Linked DNA regions of Homo sapiens: region 1 is linked to region 2. Evidence: fine-mapped expression QTL. A gene starts in region 2. The other region holds a variant in brackets. All regions are shown on one strand. Distances are between the middles of the regions.

Region 1 (8,876 bases), 26 kb before region 2:
GGGGCACAGGCAGCACTGGGGCACGAGCTGGGGCTTCTGTACAGAGGGAGGAGGTAGCTGGGACATCACCCTGGCCGAGCACTTCATATCCCAAAAGTGACCCTTCCCCTTAAGAGCCTCCCCAATAAAACAACCCACTAAGTGCAGCCTCCTCTCAGACTCAGTCTTGGTCCTGTACCCCACAACCCCAGTAATTCTACAAGCACAGTTTACCTTTTTTTTTTTTTTTTTTTTTTTGAGACAAGGTCTCACTCTGTCGCCCAGGCTGGAGTGCAGTGCTGCGATCTCGGATCACTGCAACCTCTGCCTCCCGTGCTCAAGCACGCCACCACCCCCAGCTATTATTTTGTATTTTGTAGAGACGGGGTTTCAACATGTTGCCCAGGCTGGTTTCAAACTCCTGAGCTCAAGCGATCTGCCAGCCTCAGCCTCCCAAAGTACTGGGATTACAGGTGTGAGCTACTGTGCCTGGCCTACAAGCACAATTTCTGTATTAAAAATTGTTTCATAGCCAGTCATGGTGGCTCATGCCTATAATCCCAGCACTTTGGGAGGCCAAGGTTGGGGGATCACTTGAGCCCGGGAGTTCAAAACAAGTCTGGGCAACATAGTGAAACTCCATCCCTACAAAAAAATACAAAAATTAGCCAGGCATGGTAGCATGTGTCTGTAGTCCCAGCTACTCAGGAGGCTGAGGTGGGAGGATCGCTTGAGCCCAGGAGGTCAAGGCTGCAGTGAGCTGTGATTATGACACTGCACTCCAGCCTGGGTGACAGAGTGAGACCCTGTGCCAAAAACAAAAATTCATATTTCGGCTGTTGGTACAGCTATTTTAATTAAATGCATCCAGTGCCTCAGGGTTCAAGGAGACCTCTCCCTCAAAAAGAAGAGTCTTTGGGAATGTGTGGCAAAGGAGTATGATCTGCCTCAGCATCTTGACAAGGCTATTTTGTCGGAAGCCCTCACTTTGAAAGCCCAGAGCTGAACATTCCCTCAGGTCAGATTCCCGACCTGCAGCTGAGGACCTGACCCCTAGTAAACTGTGACCGTGGGTCCTAGACCTCCTGGGACAGCTTCGTGGTCAAGTATCCTATCTCTGAGTGAGATGGCATGCCTTGATTGGGTTCAGAAAATGTGGTCAACACATTCTGCATTCCCCAGCATCAGCCCAGTCAGACCAATGCTGAATGTATCCTCTGGTCCCTCATCTCCCTTCAGCCTGGAAGAGCAAGGAGGTGGCTGGTGCTCAGACACTCTGTGACCCTCCTTTGTTTTTTACAGTCTCGACAAGTCTCCTGCCTGGAGGTTCATGCACAATCCAGGAGGCGGAGGAAGAGGGAGAAAAGTGAGCTGTTTTGCCTTTTCTGCCTACTGGGGGACAAGGGGGAGCTGCTTCCAAATCCCATCAGCATCAGACTCCACCTAGTCCAGGGCTTCCCTGGGCTCAGGGGGACCAAAAGCTCGGCTGAAACCCCTCAGAATCATCTCACCCCCAGGGGTCCTGAGCCCCTGGCCTCCCATCCTGCTCTGTAAAGGGCGTGTTCGCCCAAGCACCCACATAACCTTGGAGTATCTCAGGTCTGGGGTCCCAGTGCTGCTCCCTCTATCCACGCTTGTCTGTGCTGTGCCATGCCAGGACCTCAGATTGCCTAGGTCAGTGAGGTGGTCAGCACCCGAAGCCCAGGACCCCTCTAACTATGCCCCTTCCTCTAGGCAGACCACAGCTCACAGAGGGTCCTAGCACTTTATAGCTGGCAGAGACCTAAGAGATCCATGAATACCATACCCCTACCCTACTCCCCACCCCACCCCATGTTGCCCATGCAAGGCTACCAGACATGAGGGAGGGAGGGAGGACAGAAGAGGCGTCTACATCAAAAGCGACAGTGTGCGGAGGGTCTGCCTCCTCTACAGTGGGCAGGTTACTTTGGGGCATCTTCTGGCAAAGCTGAGCCAAGGACTGGTCCTGAGGACCTTCTCAGCATCTCAAAGGGTTTTCTGGGGACTATGTTTGTCTGCATCCTCATAAACCTCATTAAAATGCAGGTTCCTGGGCCCTGCCCTACCCTATAGATTGAGAATCTCTGGGGAATTTGAACTGGTGCCCCAGGTGATTCTAAACTCCTCCTGGATACCTCCAAATAGGTTTTTTGCTGGACCAAGTTGCAGGTGGGTAGTGAGAGGCTCCCAGGGTCTCACCCTCTTGTCCTCTCTCCCAGTGAAGGACCTCCTGGTGATGGTGAACGAATCCTTTGAGAACACCCAGCGTGTCCGGCCCTGCTTGGAACCCTGCTGCCCAACCTCTGCCTGCTTCCAAACCGCTGCCTGCTTCCACTACCCCAAGTACTTCCAGTCCCAGGTGCACGTGGAAGTGCCCAAGAGTCACTGGAGCTGTGGGGTACAAGGCGGCTGACACTGGGGGAGGTGTGGGGGACTGGGACAGGTGGGGGGTGCCAGAGGAGCTCCCCAGCCCCTCTCACAGAACCCACCCATCCCTCCAGCTTTGCTGCCGCTCTCGCAAGAAGGGCCCCATCAGCCAGCCCCTCGACTGCCTTTCCGATGGTCAGGTGATGACCCTGCCTGTGGTGAGTGCCTGAGTCTGGGAAGGGCCCCTGACTTACTTCCCCTGGAGCTCCTGTGGTAGGGAGGTGGGGAGAGCCTGGGGAGGTACAAGAGAGAATGTGACTCGTGAGGGTCTCTCTCAGGCAGGATGGAGGAGTCTTGTGGGGCAGGAGACTGATGAGCTACAGTGTGGTCCAAAGAGTGTATGGAGGCTGAGTTGAAGATGGTGGGGAGATTGTGTCCAGAAGAGAGAGGCAGGGATGGAGCGCCTGTGTGTGCACGTGTGTGCTGAGTGGGGTCTGGGTGGACAGTGTGGATCTGGGATCACTTGGCTCTGAATTGTCACCTCTGACAAGCTTTTCATCTTTCCCTCCCCAGGGTGAGAGTTATGAATTACACATGAAGTCTACACCCTGGTATAGTACCCGCATTCTGTCCGTGCCTCTCACTTATTCATAGCAGTGGGTGTGCAGTGGTATCTCACTGTGGTTTTGATTTGCATTTCCCCTATGGCTAATGATGTTGAACATCTTTCCATGGGCTGGCTGGCATATCATCTTCTTTGGAGACATTTCTATTAGATCCTTTGCCCACTTTTTATGTGGGTTATTTGTGTTTTTTTATTGTTAAGTTGTAAGAGTGCTTTACATATGCCAGATACAAATCCCTTGTCAGATATATGATTTGCAAATATTTCCTCTTATTCTATGGCGTATCTTTTCACATTCTTGTTGGTGTCCTTTGAAGCACAAAGGACTTTACTTTTGAGGAAATTTGTTTTTTTATCTTGTCACTTGTGCTTTTGGTGTCATATCTAAGAAACCAGAAATCATTGCCTAATCCAATGTCCTGAAATTTTTATTTTATTTTATTTTATTTTATTTTATTTTGAAATGGAGTCTCACTGTCGCCCAGGCTGGAGTGCAGTGGTGTGATCTCAGCTCACTGCAACCTCTGTCTCCTGGGTTAAGCGATTCTCCTGCCTCAGCCTCCCCAGTAGCTGGGATTACAGATGCACACCTCTACACCTGGCTAATTTTTGTATTTTCAGTAGAGACGGGGTTTCACCGTATTGGCCAGCTGGTCTCGAACTCCTGACCTCAAGTGATCCACCCTCCTCGGCTTCCCAAAGTGCTGGGATTACAAGCGTGCGCCACCGCGCCCGACCAAAGTCCTGAAAATATATTCCCATGTTTTTTTCTAAGACTTGTTTAGTTTTAGCTCTCACATTTAGGTCTATGATCAATTTTTAGGTAATCAATCTACATGGTGTAAAAGAGGGGCTCAACCTCGTTCTTTGGCATGTGGATATCCAGATGTCTCAGCACCATCTGCTGAAAACAACATCGTTTTCAGAAATCTTGATTGTCAGAAATCAAGTGGCCATGATTTCTATTGACAGTTTGATTAGCTATTTGCCCTTGGAAAAGCTCTTTGCCCTTACTGAGTCTCTGTTTTCCTCATCTGTACATTGGGAGAATAACAAGGATCCTGTGCATCACTGGGTTGCTCTGAGGATCCAGCTAGACAGCACGTGCGAAGTACTCAGTAATCCATCTGGCAAGTGGGATGCTCAGCAAACGTCAGCTAATGTTATTGTTATTATTGTTGTTGTATTATTATTATTCATTCCCTGTTGAGGCCAAAGAAAGAATTATTTTCTAACAGCCATGTCTGCAGCCCTGTGCTGGACAAAGAGGAGACATGATGGAAATCTCCTAGGCCCAGCCTTCAAGGAGATGTGGCTTTGTCAGTGAGCCAAGGCTCAGTTGGAAATGGTCAAGGTACATTCATCTGGAGTCACTGGGGAGCTGGGCCTCAGAGGATGCACAGGCTGGAGGTGGGCAAAGGGAAGACACTTCTGGTGAAGGCAGGGGCCTGTGCCAAGACCCGGAAACAGGACTGCTTCTGGGAGCTCTGGGACCTGACCCAGAAGTTTCGCGGGTAGTTTGAGGTGAGCTTGGAAAGATCAGGCAGGGTCTTGGATGCCAGGCCAGGAGCCTGGACTTGTTTGGGGCAGGGATGTGATTAAAAAAAAAAAAGAGGACAAGCATTGTGCATGTCACAGAGGTGCCTGCCCCACCTGCCTGCAGACTATGAGGTGACACAATGAGATCAGGAATGGGATGGTTTTTGTCAATTGCACACACACACAGAATAATTGTTATTCTAGGAGCAGGAAGAGCTCATTGAAGAACGTGAGCTCCATAGGAACAGGGAGTTTGTTTACCTAGCACAGAAGAGTCCATACCGTGGGGCCTTGTTCAGAGGGATTTGGCAAAATGATCTCAGCGCCTTTTGTCACCCATGCCTGGCCCTGGGCTAGAGAAGCCACCTGGGGGAAGACTTTCTGGACTTTCCAGATCTGGCCGAGGAGACAGAGGACTCAAAGCGTCCCTAACACAGTGCCAACAGTTATCTTTTGTTGAGTACCAGCTCGCATTGTGCCAGCTAAGGCTTTGGGGGCTTTGCATTTGTTATCTCTTTAAGTGCTGAAGACAGTGCTGAGAGTTCAGCACGATTCGCCCCACTTTACAGATGGGAAAGTGGAGACCCAAGGTCACAGAAGTGGTCGCTGGCAGAAGTAGGCTTTGAGCCTAGGTCCAATGGACCCT[G/A]AAGCTGTGTCTACTCCAGGGAGGTAGAGGCTGCAGGCCCAATACAGGGTCCTCTCTCCCTCCAGCCCTGAGACACTGGACGTGCGGCTGGGCTTCAGCCTGTGCCCAGCAGAGCTGGAGTTTCTGCAGAAGCGGAAGGTCGTGGTGGCCAAGGCCCTGAAGCAGGTGCTGCAGCTGGAGGAAGACCTGCAGGAGGACGAGGTGGGTAATCAGGGATGTGGCCAGCCTGGGCCCAGCTGGTCCTTCCAGCACCATGCCCTCCCAGCCAACCCAGGCCCTGCCCTACCCCAGGCGCCACCTCCATGGATGCTTTTACTGCTGAGGTACAGGCGCCCTGGTGAGAGCTGTGCTGGAAGTGATTCTGTTTTATATTCACAAGAGAAGGGGAGAGCAAAATGGAGACAGAAAGGACAGAGCCCCAGCGCCTCCTCCCAAGCACTAAGAGTTCCTGCTGTGGCTAAAGGGGCCTTACTCAGGGATAAAATGCCCTCCTCACCCCAGCCAGGAAAACATTTTAAGCTGTACCACCTTCTGCACCCCACACCTCCACCCAAAAGGCCTTAGGTCCTTCTTTCCTCAATTGTCTCTCCTCTCAAATCCGCACAGGTAAACACACTCCCAGAAATAACAGCGCTAGGAAGCTGGAGAGAAGCAACTTGCACTCCTAGGGCCAGACCGCCCCTTCTTCCCACGGGAGCAGACGGTGGGCCTCTGTCACAGCCCTCTGTTGCCTCCCTTGTGTGGACCAAGGCCCACACTCGCCTGGGCAGCAGGCAAGCCCTCCAAGCGCCTGCTTTCTGAGGCTGACCCTAGGTGAGGACAGAGACCTGGCGGGTGCCCGAGGAGGACTTGTAATAGCGCTTTAGCCAATGGAAGGTTCTTACAGCCCCCACTCAAAGGAAAACAGACAGAATGAGTCTTGACAAAGAGCCCCTTCCTCCCTCCTTTTTTTTTTTTTTTTTTTTTTTTTTTTTCTTGAGACAGGGTCTTGCTCTGTCACCCAGGCTGGAGTGCAGTGGCACCATCACAGCTCACTGCAGCCTCCACCTCCCAGGCTCAAGCAATCCTCTTACTTCAGCCTCCCAAGTAGCTGGGACTCCAGGAATGAGCCACAATGCCTGGCTAATTTTTGTATTTTTTTGTAGAGATGGGGTTTCTACATGTTGCCCAGGCTGGTCTTGAACTCCTGGGCTTAAGCAATCTGCCCACCTCGGCCCCCCAAAGTGCTGGGATTACAAGTGTGAGCCATTGTACCTGGCCCTATCTTTAGGGAAACATTCCAGGGGCCTCTTAAACCTCTGCTGACCCAGAGCTGGCAACCCTGCTCCTTCCCACATCACCAGTCCATTGACTCTTGGCCTTGCCAGTACAGTACCTGCTGAGCAGGCACCATGTGCCAGGCCTGGTGCCTTCCCTCAGATCCAGCTACAGAAGATGTTGGTTTGTCCCATTGAGGGATCGCACATTAGTAGGGTTCTTGAACAAGCTGCCCACCACCCTCGGACCCCAGTTTTATCACCTGTTAACCGAGGGCTAGACTAACAGTGCTAAGAACTCTGCTAGCCACAGCTTTCTGTGATTTACCAAGCCTGTGTTAGGCTTCAGAGTCCTTCACTGACACCAACTTCTGGGTGTGGAGCTGAGGTCTATTTCTAGACCCACTGCTCTGTGGAAAGGCAGGTGTCAGGTGGCTCAACGCCGCACTCCCTGCCCTCTGTAGCCAGCTCTGCCTCCTCCATTGTTCTTTCAAAGTTGCCGTCATTCTAAGTCTTCTCCCAAGCTTTGCTTCTGGAGCCTTCCCCAACCGCCTGCCTCTGTGTAACCCCAGGTGCCGCTGATAGCCATCATGGCCACTGGGGGTGGAACAAGATCCATGACCTCCATGTATGGCCACCTGCTGGGGCTGCAGAAGCTGAACCTCCTGGACTGTGCCAGCTACATCACCGGTCTATCAGGGGCCACCTGGTAAGGAGACATGAGCCACTGTCTGTGGAGCCCAGGGCAAGCCACGAACAGGCTGGCCTGGGGTCTCAGGTGAAGCTCCTCCCCGCCACCCAAAGACAAAGTGACTCCTGAAGCCTGGGAAGTGCCCCACATGCAGTGGTGTGGCCTTGGGCATGCAGCTTGACTCCTTGGAGGCTCGGCTTGTGTATCTGCACAGTGCGGATAACAGTAGCTCTGACCTCATGCGGTGGGTGTAAGACGCTCTCCCGCTACTAAGTATGCCAGAGACACTGTATGCCCTGGCCTTTCCTGGTGTTACTGTTTCCCTGGGGCTGTGGTATGGACCCAGGAACATGACCCCATACTGCTGGGGACATGCAACGGGCAGGGCCCTGCAGCTGAGCTCCCTCCTTCTCACCCTCTGCTGGTGAGCAGGGCCAGGGGCTGAGCACTGGGTTCCCCCACAGGGAGGCCAGGGTGAGGTCAGCTTACCCACAGAAGGCACAGTGCCTGCGGCTCACTGTACTTTTAGGGGCCCACAAAAATAGGTTAATTTCTTTTAAAATCAGGATCATTTCATTAACAAACTTATAGGTTGAAGAAAATGTTTTAATAAATAATATGAATACATTTGTCTTTATACAACAGTCATGAAATATAAATTTTAATATTTTTTATGTGGCCAGCATGAAATATAAATTTTAATATTTTTTATGTGGCCAGGTATGGTGGCTCACATCTGTAATCCCAGCACTTTGGGAGGCAGAGGCAGAAGGCTTGCTTGAGGCCAGGAGCTCAAGACCAGGCTGGGCCACATAGGGAGGACTTGTCTTTAAAAAAAACAAAAATAAAAAACATATAAACATTTTTTGTGGGGCCCATCAAAACCCTGCGTGGCCCTGGTTCAGGGTGGCCTATCAAGCAGGGCCGTGTCCTGTCTGTGACTGGTGGGCCTGTGAGCCCTGAGGTCCCTTGCTGTGCCTTGTATACTGGAGGAGCTCTGGGTAGCCCCCGTGTGAGCAAATGGATGTGAATGGGCCTTGGAAAGCCAAGGGCTCCTGTGCCACACACCCCCCCGGGGGGCAGAGGCGCCAGCCCAGGTGAGACAGAAGGAGACATTTGCCTCTTGCTAAGCACTGGAGTCACTGCTTCCTATGGCTCATCTTGTTTCTTCCTCACAAAAAACTATGAGAGAGGCATTGTCATTATTTTTCAGCTGGAGAAACAGAGTAATTTGCCAGGGACACTCAGTTAATGAGCAGTGGAGTAGAATTTGAACCTAGTCCCGGGCCCACATCCTTAACCTCCATGCTAAATGGCTGCCCCCGGTAGTAGGTTAAGAAGGTAACTTGCTTCCAGCAGGTTGAGGGGCACCTGCGTCCTCCCGGACTACTATGCGATAGACAGATAGCAGGAGGAACTCAGGCCCAGCCGGGGTGGGATGGGTGGGGTCCCCTGGCCTGGGGAAAGCACAAGTCGTATTCTTTTAAAAACTCATTTGCAATGGCTTCTGGAAGCTTTTTTAAAGTATAAAATGAATGGGTGAAGCTTATGGAGAGCAGGGTGCTTTTTGTTGAAAAGTCTCCTGACCACCTCCCACCTTCCCAAAAGCAAGTCCTGTGAGGGAGGAGGCCCCTGTTTCCTTAAATGTGCAGCCGCAGACTAGCTGCACTGCCAGGGAGGTCATTCTCAGGCGCAGAATGAAAAGGGCCCTTTCCTGTCCTGACGCAGAAAAGCTGGATCCAGGCCAAGAAG
Region 2 (8,876 bases):
ATTGTTTTCCCTAGCAGCTGCATGTACATTCACTTTTGTAATCTAGCCTTTTTCCACTTAAAAATATATTCTGAGCATTTTTGCACATCATTAATATTCTTGTCAAATGACATAGTTTTCAGTAACCACATAGGAACCCATAATTTGCTTAACTAATCCTCCATGATGATAGACAGCTCCATGCTGACAACCATCGTCTTAGATAAAAATTTACATTAATCATTTCCTCAGTATAAATACCCTCAGGATAAATTTCCTCAAGATAAAAATTCCTGAGTCAAAAAGTATGACCATATTTAACAACTAATCAAGGTGTAATAAACATATGATCAACTGTGCATATTTAAAGTACATTTATCCGTGAGTCCAGGACCCCTGGGAATACCAAAACCATGGATGCTCAACTCCCTTATATAAAATGGTATTGTAAAAAAAAAAAAAAAAGGTATTGTATTTGCATATAGCCTAAGCACATCCTCCACATACTTTCTTTTAAACTTAAAACGCCATGCATCAGGAACCCATATACTTTAAATCCTACCTAGATTACTTATTATTAATGTAGATGATATGAAAATAGTTGTTATACTGTATTGCTTAGGGAATAATGAAAAGGAAAAAAGGTCTGTATGTGTTCAGTACAGATGCAACCATCCATTTTTTTCCCCAAATATTTTCCATCTGTGGTTGATTGAATCCATGGATACAGAACACAGAGATATGGAGGATCCAACGTACATAATTTCATGAGTTTTTACATATGTATACAATGGTGAAACCATAACCACAATCAAGGTAATGAATAAACCCTTCAGCCCCAAAAGCTTTCCAGTGCCTTTTGCAATCCTTCCCTCTGCTCCTCCCCTGCTGGGTCATGTGGTAAGTGTACGTTCCACTTTTTAAGAAACTGCCACACTGTTTTCCAAAGTGGTTGTGCCATTTTACATTCTGACCAACAATGTGTAAGAGTTCCAGTTGCTCCACATCCTCATCAATGATTGGCATGATCAGTCTTTCCTAATTTTAGACATTCTAATAGGTATGTGGTAGTATCTTGCTGTGGTTTTAATTCGCATTCTCCTAACAAACAACAATGTTGAACATGTCTTCATGTGCTTATTTGCCATCCATACATCTTCTTTTGTAAAATATCTGTTTAGATCTTTTTTCCATTTTTTAAATGGAAATTTTAAAATTGGGGTTTTTACTATTAAGTTTTAAGAAGTTTTTAAATATTCTGGATACAAGTCCTTTATCAGATATGTGATCTGCAAGTATATTCTGTGCCTTGTCTTGTCTTTTCATTCTCTTCACAGTACTTTCAAAGGTCAGAAGTTCTCAAGTTTAATGAAATCCAATTTACCAACTTTTTTTTCCTTTAAGGATTGTGCTTTTGGTGTCACCTAAGAAATCTTTCCCTAACCCAAGTTCACAACAATTTTCTCCCGTGTTTTCTACTAGAAGTTTTATAATCTTAAGTTTTACATTTAGTTCTACATTTATATTAGTTTTATATCTAGTTCCATTTTAAGTTAATTTAGTGATGTATCTATTTAGGTTAGGTTTATTGATTGTAACGAATGTTCCATTGGTTCAGGATGTTGATAGTGGGGGAGGCTGTGTGTCGGGGAGGGTGGGGGTATATGGGAACTCTCGGTACTTTATGCTCCATTTTGCTGTGAACCTAAAACTGATCTGAAATTCACGAGTCATTATCACTTACATTCACTCTTGGTGTTGTACATTCTGTGGGTTTTGACAAATATATAATGACATGTATCCATCATTATAGTACCATAAAAAGTAGAGCCACTGCCATAAAAATCCTCTGTTCTCTGCCTGTTCATTCCTTCCTTCTCCCTAACACCTAGAAACTACTGACCTTTTTACTTCCTCCATAATTTTGCCTTCTCCAGAATGTCATAAAGATGAAATCGTACAGTACATAGCATTTTCGGATTGGCTTCTTTCACTTAGTAATAGGCATTTAAGTTTCCTCTGTGTCTTTTTATGGCTTGATAGCTCATTTCTTTTTAGTGCTGAATAAGATTCCATTGTCTGGATGTACCACAGATTATCCTTTCACTTACTGAAGGACATGTTAGTTGCTTCCAATTTTTGGCACTTATGAATAAAGCCACTATGAACATCCATGTACAGGCTTTTCTGTGGATATAAGTTTTCAATTCATTTGGGTAAATACTAAGGAGCTGATTTCTGCATCATATGGTAAGATTGTATTTATATCCGTTTGTTTTTATGTATTCTAAAAAAATACATCGAAGCTTTTACTTTTGTTGTCAAATATGTCAGCCTTTGCTTTCATAATTTCTGTCCTTAATGTTGGTTAGAAAGGCTTTTCCACCGCCAAATTGTATAAATCTCTTGTACCTTCTTCTAGTAGTGCAGTGGTTTCATTTTCTTTTTACATTTCAATCTTTGTTTTATTTTGACACAAGGCAGATGTCTAACTTTATTTTCCCTTGGCTTTCTTTTCACTTCCCTAGTTACATACAATTCCCTCCAACTATGTGACCCACACAACAACTCCAAAGGAGTTTCCATTTTGCTCTTAAGGAAACTAGGGCAGAGAGGTAACTCATCACATTTAAAATCACACAGCCATTAATTTACATAGTCAAGGTTCAAACCCAGATCTTTTGATGCAAAGTCCTGTTCTCTCATACTCCAAGTATGGTCCAGGGATGGGTAGCATTGGCAATACCCGAGAGCCTGTTAGAAATGTAGAGTCATGGGCCCCATCCCATACCTACCGAATCAGAATCCGCATTTCTGTTAGGTTGGAGAAGTACTGCAGGGTGTACTGTTTCCCCAGACTTAGGCCACATCAGAGTCACCTAGGGCATCTGTTGAGCTCCATCTCTCCTCAATATTTTAACTCAGTAGGTCTGGACTGAAGACCAGGAATCTGCATTTTAACAAGCATCCCAGCTCATAAATGCATATATGCAGGTGGCCCCATGGATCACACTTGAGAAATGCTCTAAAACAACTAAGAAATATTCCTAAGCTACAATCAAGGACACAAAAGGTGATTATTTCCCCCAATCTCAACTTAGATAAGTGAGTATCCTTTTAACCTAGAAAAGAAACAGGCCAGGGGCGGTGGCTCACGCCTATAATCCCAATACTTTGGGAGGCCAAGGCAGGCGGATCATCTGAGGTCAGGAGTTCAAGACCAGCCTTACCAATATGGTGAAACCCCATCTCTACTAAAAATACAAAAATTAGCTGGGCATGGTGGTGAGCGCCTGTAGTCCCAGCTACTCAGGAGGCTGAGACAGGAAAATTGCTTGAACCCGGGAAGCGGAGGTTGCAGTGAGCCGAGATCGTGCCACTGCACTCCAGCCTGGGCGACAGAGCGAGACTCCGTCTCAGAAAACAACAACAACAACAAAAAACAGCTAGGAGGTGACAATGACTCACATGTCAATATGTGGAAATAAAGTTGTAATAATGAGGATAATGTAATAATGAGAGTAATGACTAAATTTTCGGCTTTACAGAAAAACACATAAAGAAAACTAAGGGGAAAAAGCCTTTAGCTGATCCAGAATTTAGTGAGGGCAATGTGGAGAAGTAGGAGAAACGGCTACTCAAATAGATTCCAGTCCACTTCCCCTCAAGATTGTGTCAATTATGCCCGTGAGCCTGGGTCTCTTGGCCTGTAAAACGGAGTCATAACCACCCGCCCCCGGGAAGACAGAACCTGCCTGTCCACTTTCTGAACTTTTCATCCCCAGTATCGACGTCCAGAGGCCTGAATGAGTAAACGTTCCAGGAGATGGAGCAGCCTCCGGAGGCTCGCTTTGGGCAGCTCAGATTTACCCGGAAGCCGATGCCACCTGGCCAGAGGTGAGGCACCGGCAACCAGAAGGGGGCCCTGAGCATGACCGGTCAGTGCCACCCGGCCGGGAAGACACCATCTCCCCGCCCAGTCCTCTAGAATGACTCCGTCATCAATAATTCATTAAGAACCTCCTCTCAATTGGCTGACGCCTTCAGCCCTCTCTGGCAGAGATCCAATCAGGAAGGACCTGAGAGAGCTCGTCTGAATAGTGGGCGAGCGCGCGTGACGTAGCGGCCGAAGACTGGCTGTGGCAGCACAAGGCGGGGCCCTCCTCGGGCGGCGGCCAGCGCGGCCGGGGCGGCTCAGTGCGAGCCGGGGAGAGTCGAACCCGGAGCAGGGTCCCATCCGAGCGTGGACTGGCGGCAGGATGTTCAGCTGGATGGGGCGGCAGGCGGGCGGGCGCGAACGCGCTGGCGGCGCGGACGCGGTGCAGACGGTGACGGGCGGGCTGCGCTCGCTCTACCTGCGCAAGGTGCTGCCGCTGGAGGAGGCGTACCGCTTCCACGAGTTCCACTCGCCTGCGCTGGAGGACGCCGACTTCGAGAACAAGCCCATGATCCTGCTGGTGGGCCAGTACAGCACCGGCAAGACCACCTTCATCAGGTACCGTCACCGCCCCTCGCCCGGCTCCCGCCCCGCTCCGCCCTCCCCACGTGTGCGCCGCAGTCGGCCGCCTCCCGCCGCTGCCCCTCCCGGCCGGCGCGACCTCGGGGACCCCTCCCGGAGCTCGGCGCCCGGTGCCCTCGGCCCCGCCCCGGCTGGCCAGCCCCGCGCGCTGGAGGGTCCCGCGAACCCGCGCCCTGCGCACTCCGAGCCCTCCTTCCTTGCGGTTCGGAAGGCGTTGCTCCCGCTGGCCTCGTCCGGTCGCCCTGGCGGGAGGGTCCAAGGGAGAGAGGGGGCGCGAGCCATAATCAGCATATTCTTGACGAGGGAGTGATGCCTAGGGATGGAAATGGGGGGAGAGGCGTAGGGTATCCGAATGGGACAGAGTCCTAGTTGGAGAGTTTGTTTAACTATTCATTTGTTCAACTATTTCTTGAACAAATGAATGGCAGCAGGAGAGCGTATCGCCCAGGCCCCCTTCCCTTGAGGTCTTTACGTGCCACCCCACAGTGTTGTGGGGAGGGGATAAAGAGGCCGCCTACGTTCAGTTCATGCACCGCCTTTAGCCGCCCGTAGGAAGTGAGCTGCGTGTAGCAGCCGCACCAGCCTGTGGAACTAAGGGGGAGTGTCATATTACTATTTGTTAGTTTCCATTTCTTAGGTGGGTCATTCCCTCCTCGCTTACCCTTGACAACTGAAAATATTTGTCATGCTTACCGTGTTTCTGAAAGCACACAATCACTGTGCATACCCTGTGGTTCAAATCATATAGTTTCAAAAGAAGTGACTTTTGCTGGGAAATTATTTAGACAGAAACAGATTGCTTTGTTGATCACCTGTTTTATTTCTAAAGCAGCCAGCATATTTAGGCTCACTGTTTTTGGTAAGAAGAACTTATTTTTCTGACTTAAGCCGTGTATCAGTTGAAACAAAGTGCTGATCATTTAAGGTTTTGGTCCAGGGTTTTGGAAATTGTAACAATCTCTTCATCATTTGATGTGCAACAGGTGTTGAGAAAACTGCATCTATATTTGGATACATGCCATTTCTGTTAAGTAGCGACCTCTTTTTCTCCACTCCAGTGACCTAAATAGTTCCTACAAATAGAGTAGCTATCACTACAGGAAATATGTTAAATCCAGGCCTCCAGATACACTGCGAATGAATTCCACAAAACAAATATACTGTGTATTGAAATGTCGTTCTAGATAATAAATTGAGTGTGAAGAAAGTAATTTCAAAATTGCTTTATTTGGTGCTTATGGACAAGACAAAAATAGAATTAAATATGTCACCGTCACCCAGACACTCAAAATGAACCATAGCTGTATTACAGTAACTGGCACCTTGAAAGATGACAAATGTCACATTTAAGGTCTCAGTAATACTGTCTAGTTTTTAGGTACTAGGGATAATAAAGTGTTATGGCCAAGTGGTACAAGAGTGGGAAGCGGTACTGTTGAAACATACAAAGAAGAAAGGCATATATTTTTGTAATTTAGTGGTGGCATGTCCCCACACCCTAGGCATTTCCTCCTGTTTGTCTTTGCTGTGAGGTCCTTGTTGTGCCCAGGTGTCATCAGGGAGCCCCTGCTAGATGCTGTGCCAACCTGGAGATAATGCAGCCCTCTCTCTGCTCCCATAGACTGGATAGCTAGCCAGCCTGATTATCAACTCCCAGGAAGATGAATACAACTCACAGGAACATGAATTTATCTTTTGTATTTTTCCAGATTTCTCTCTCATTATATTCTCACTCTTCTCTCTGTTTCATTATTTGGAGAAATTTGTGGAATAGCTAAGCGCAGTTTTATGAAGGGTTCTGAGATTTGATTCCTGGCAGCTACCTCATCCAAATTGGCCACCTCTCAGCAGGTGCTGGAGCTGTGGGCCACCCTAGGGTGAGGGAGGAATCACCTTATTAGGAAGCCATTTGTTCTTGAGGCTTTCCTTGAGCTAAGTGGCTTTGTTGTTAGGTGATGTACACAAGGTAGACCAGTGAGGTTAGAAGAAAATCAGTGTGGGCAGGAAGCTTGGTGAGGCCACAGGAGACCTGAATTGCTTTTCAGATTGGAGCTAGGAGGAAGTGATTTAGCACCCGGGAGGAAATCCCCAAACAAAAGGGCAGCTACCCTGGAGACTTGTGAACTTGGAATTAAATATCACCCCAGACACTGTAAATGAACCATGGATTCATCTTGAGCGGAAGGGTTGGCCCAGGGTGCTGAGCATCCTGGATCCTGCCTTAGTTAGAGCCTGGTTAGTGGTCTGGGTTGTTTGCTTCTAGCGATTGGGCCCTAGAAGCTCATACTTGGCTGTGGGGTGTACCTAATCTACATAGCCATAGATTCTTATCTCCCTGGCTTCCTGCACATTCCAAGAGGTCACTGATGACACAGAACCTGTGCTGACATGGTGGGAATCTTCTCTTATTGCTGTTGGCTCTTCTGCCTTTGACTGGCAATAAAGAATTGGCCAGAGAAGGAGGGGAGATGGGCATGGGGGAAAGTGACCATGTCATCTTAGACTCTGTACTAGCCGAGGAAGGATGGATATGGAGCTCACCCAGGCTTGTGTCCAAAACTTGAGGAAAACAGATTTCAAAGATTCCTCCAGAAAATCCCTGGCCCCAGGTGCTGTGAAGGAAGACATTTCCACTGAAAAAGTATGAAGTCCATTTGAAATGAATGCAAACTACACAATTTTTTTTTTTTGAGACAGTTTCGCTGTTGTTGCCCAGGCTGGAGTGCCATGGCATGATCTCGGCTCACCGCAACCTCCCCCTCCCGGGTTCAAGCAATTCTTCTGTCTCAGCCTCCCGAGTAGCTGGGATTACAGGCATGTGCCACCACGCCTGGCTAATTTTGTATTTTTAGTAGAGATGGGGTTTTTCCATGTTGGTCAGGCTGGTCTCAAACTCCCGACCTCAGGTGATTTGCCCGCCTTGGCCTCCCAAAGTGCTGGGATTACAGGCGTGAGCCACCGCGCCCCATCCCAAACTACACATTTTTAAGAGCTCCACTTTCTCCCTTCATATGCTCTGTTCCCTCTCCCCAGAAAACTTATTCTAATGAGGAAAAAAGAGGGAAGTCACTCAAGAAACTATATAGGCTTTAAAAGGGTAGAGAGCAGGGAAATAAGGCAAGAAAAGAAATAAACTCCCAGACTGGAGAGAAAAAAGTAAAACTCTTTGCAGATGACATGATCTTCTATGTAGAGAATCCTAAGAAACCACTTAAAAACTATTAGAACAATGGGGGAAACTATAGTTCAACAAATGGTGCTAGGACAACTGGATAGCCGCATGCAAACGAAATAGAGAATGACTGTTAGTGGGCGTGGAGTTTCTCTTTGATGTGATGAAAATGTTCTGAAATTGGATAATGATATTGGTTGCACAACTTTGTGAATATACTAAAGGAGTGCACCCTGTAAAAGAATAAATTTTCTGGTATATGAATTATATCTCAATAAAAAACCAAAACAATTCAGTCTTTCAACACTAAGCATCATGTGATTTAATTTTCATGATTCTGCAACTAGCGCCAGCCAAGTAATTTCTGCATCTATGTGTAATAATTTAAAATAGAAATGGATGCCAGAAAGAAAACAAAGTAGAAATAAGCTAGAAGAACCCAAGGGCAAAGGAACTAAAGAGTAAAGATGAGGGGCCAGGTGCAGTGGCTCACACCTGTAATCCTAACACTTTGGGAGACTGAGGTAGGTGGATCGTTTGAGCTCAGGAGTTCAAGACCACCCTGGGCAACATAGTGAGACCCCATCTCTACAAAAAAAAAAAAAAAAAGGAGTAAAGATGAGGGAAAAGGGAGTGAAAGTAGCCATCCCACAATCCCTGTATGAGTATTCTTGTCAATGTATAAACATGTTCATTGTTCATAACACTCAAGTTGGTAAAATCAAAGTATGATAAAAATTTTTAATAAAATGCTTGATACCGTAATTGTGTTTAAAAACTTTAGATATTAACATTTAACTATAGTATTTAATAGGGGAAAAAAGGGGCAGGGGTGCATGTGCAAGGGTGCAGACAAGGTTTATGGGCGGTATGAAGGATCAAGAAGCTGGAGTGGGCTGAGAAGGTAAAAGTGCCTTGGACATTAAAAAAGCCTTTTAAGGTATGATTAGAACAAGAACAAGAATCAGGAAGTGATCGGCCCACTCATGGGCTCTTGCTGCAATATTAACAGAAAGCAGAACTACTCAGCTTCCTCCTTTTCCTCAAAGAAAATGCCCCAGAGATGGCAGAAGGGAGCCCAGCTGTGTTCAAGAGGGGATTAAAACCACAGGCTGAGGAGCTCTCCCAGGGCCTGCCACAGGCGAGGTTCAGGAAATCTCTGGCCGGACACATGGATGAAAGAACTTGCATTTCTGCTCAAAGAAC

Direction of the effects. Alleles are on the strand shown, and positions count from the first base shown. SD is a standard deviation of normalised expression in the study named.
As copies of A replace G in region 1, the expression in sun-exposed skin of the gene that starts at base 3,970 in region 2 goes down (small effect, 0.26 SD a copy in GTEx).

Evidence for each region. PIP is the estimated chance that this variant, and not a neighbour inherited with it, causes the effect.
Region 1: its variant is fine-mapped to the expression of PLA2G4E-AS1 in sun-exposed skin (GTEx, PIP 0.91).

The regions. Positions count from the first base shown.
Region 1 is chr15:41,993,626-42,002,501 of GRCh38, reverse strand. It overlaps PLA2G4E (phospholipase A2 group IVE), which reads left to right. Exons shown (of 20, transcript NM_001395548.1): 7 at 1,282-1,345; 8 at 2,220-2,398; 9 at 2,502-2,585; 10 at 2,941-2,978; 11 at 5,243-5,378; 12 at 7,006-7,142. It overlaps PLA2G4E-AS1 (PLA2G4E antisense RNA 1), which reads right to left. Exons shown (of 4, transcript NR_120334.1): 4 at 3,408-5,363. Among named protein-coding and RNA genes, the nearest start is that of PLA2G4E, 23 kb to the left of the region's middle. The variant G/A (reference allele first, on the strand shown) is at 5,178.
Region 2 is chr15:41,967,857-41,976,732 of GRCh38, reverse strand. PLA2G4E-AS1 (PLA2G4E antisense RNA 1) reads right to left here and starts at 3,970. Exons shown (of 4, transcript NR_120334.1): 1 at 3,735-3,970; 2 at 2,775-2,929. EHD4 (EH domain containing 4) reads left to right here and starts at 4,176. Exons shown (of 6, transcript NM_139265.4): 1 at 4,176-4,474. The coding sequence starts at 4,239. RefSeq lists silencers at 4,125-4,254, 4,295-4,364, 4,465-4,734 and enhancers at 6,497-6,716, 8,488-8,537.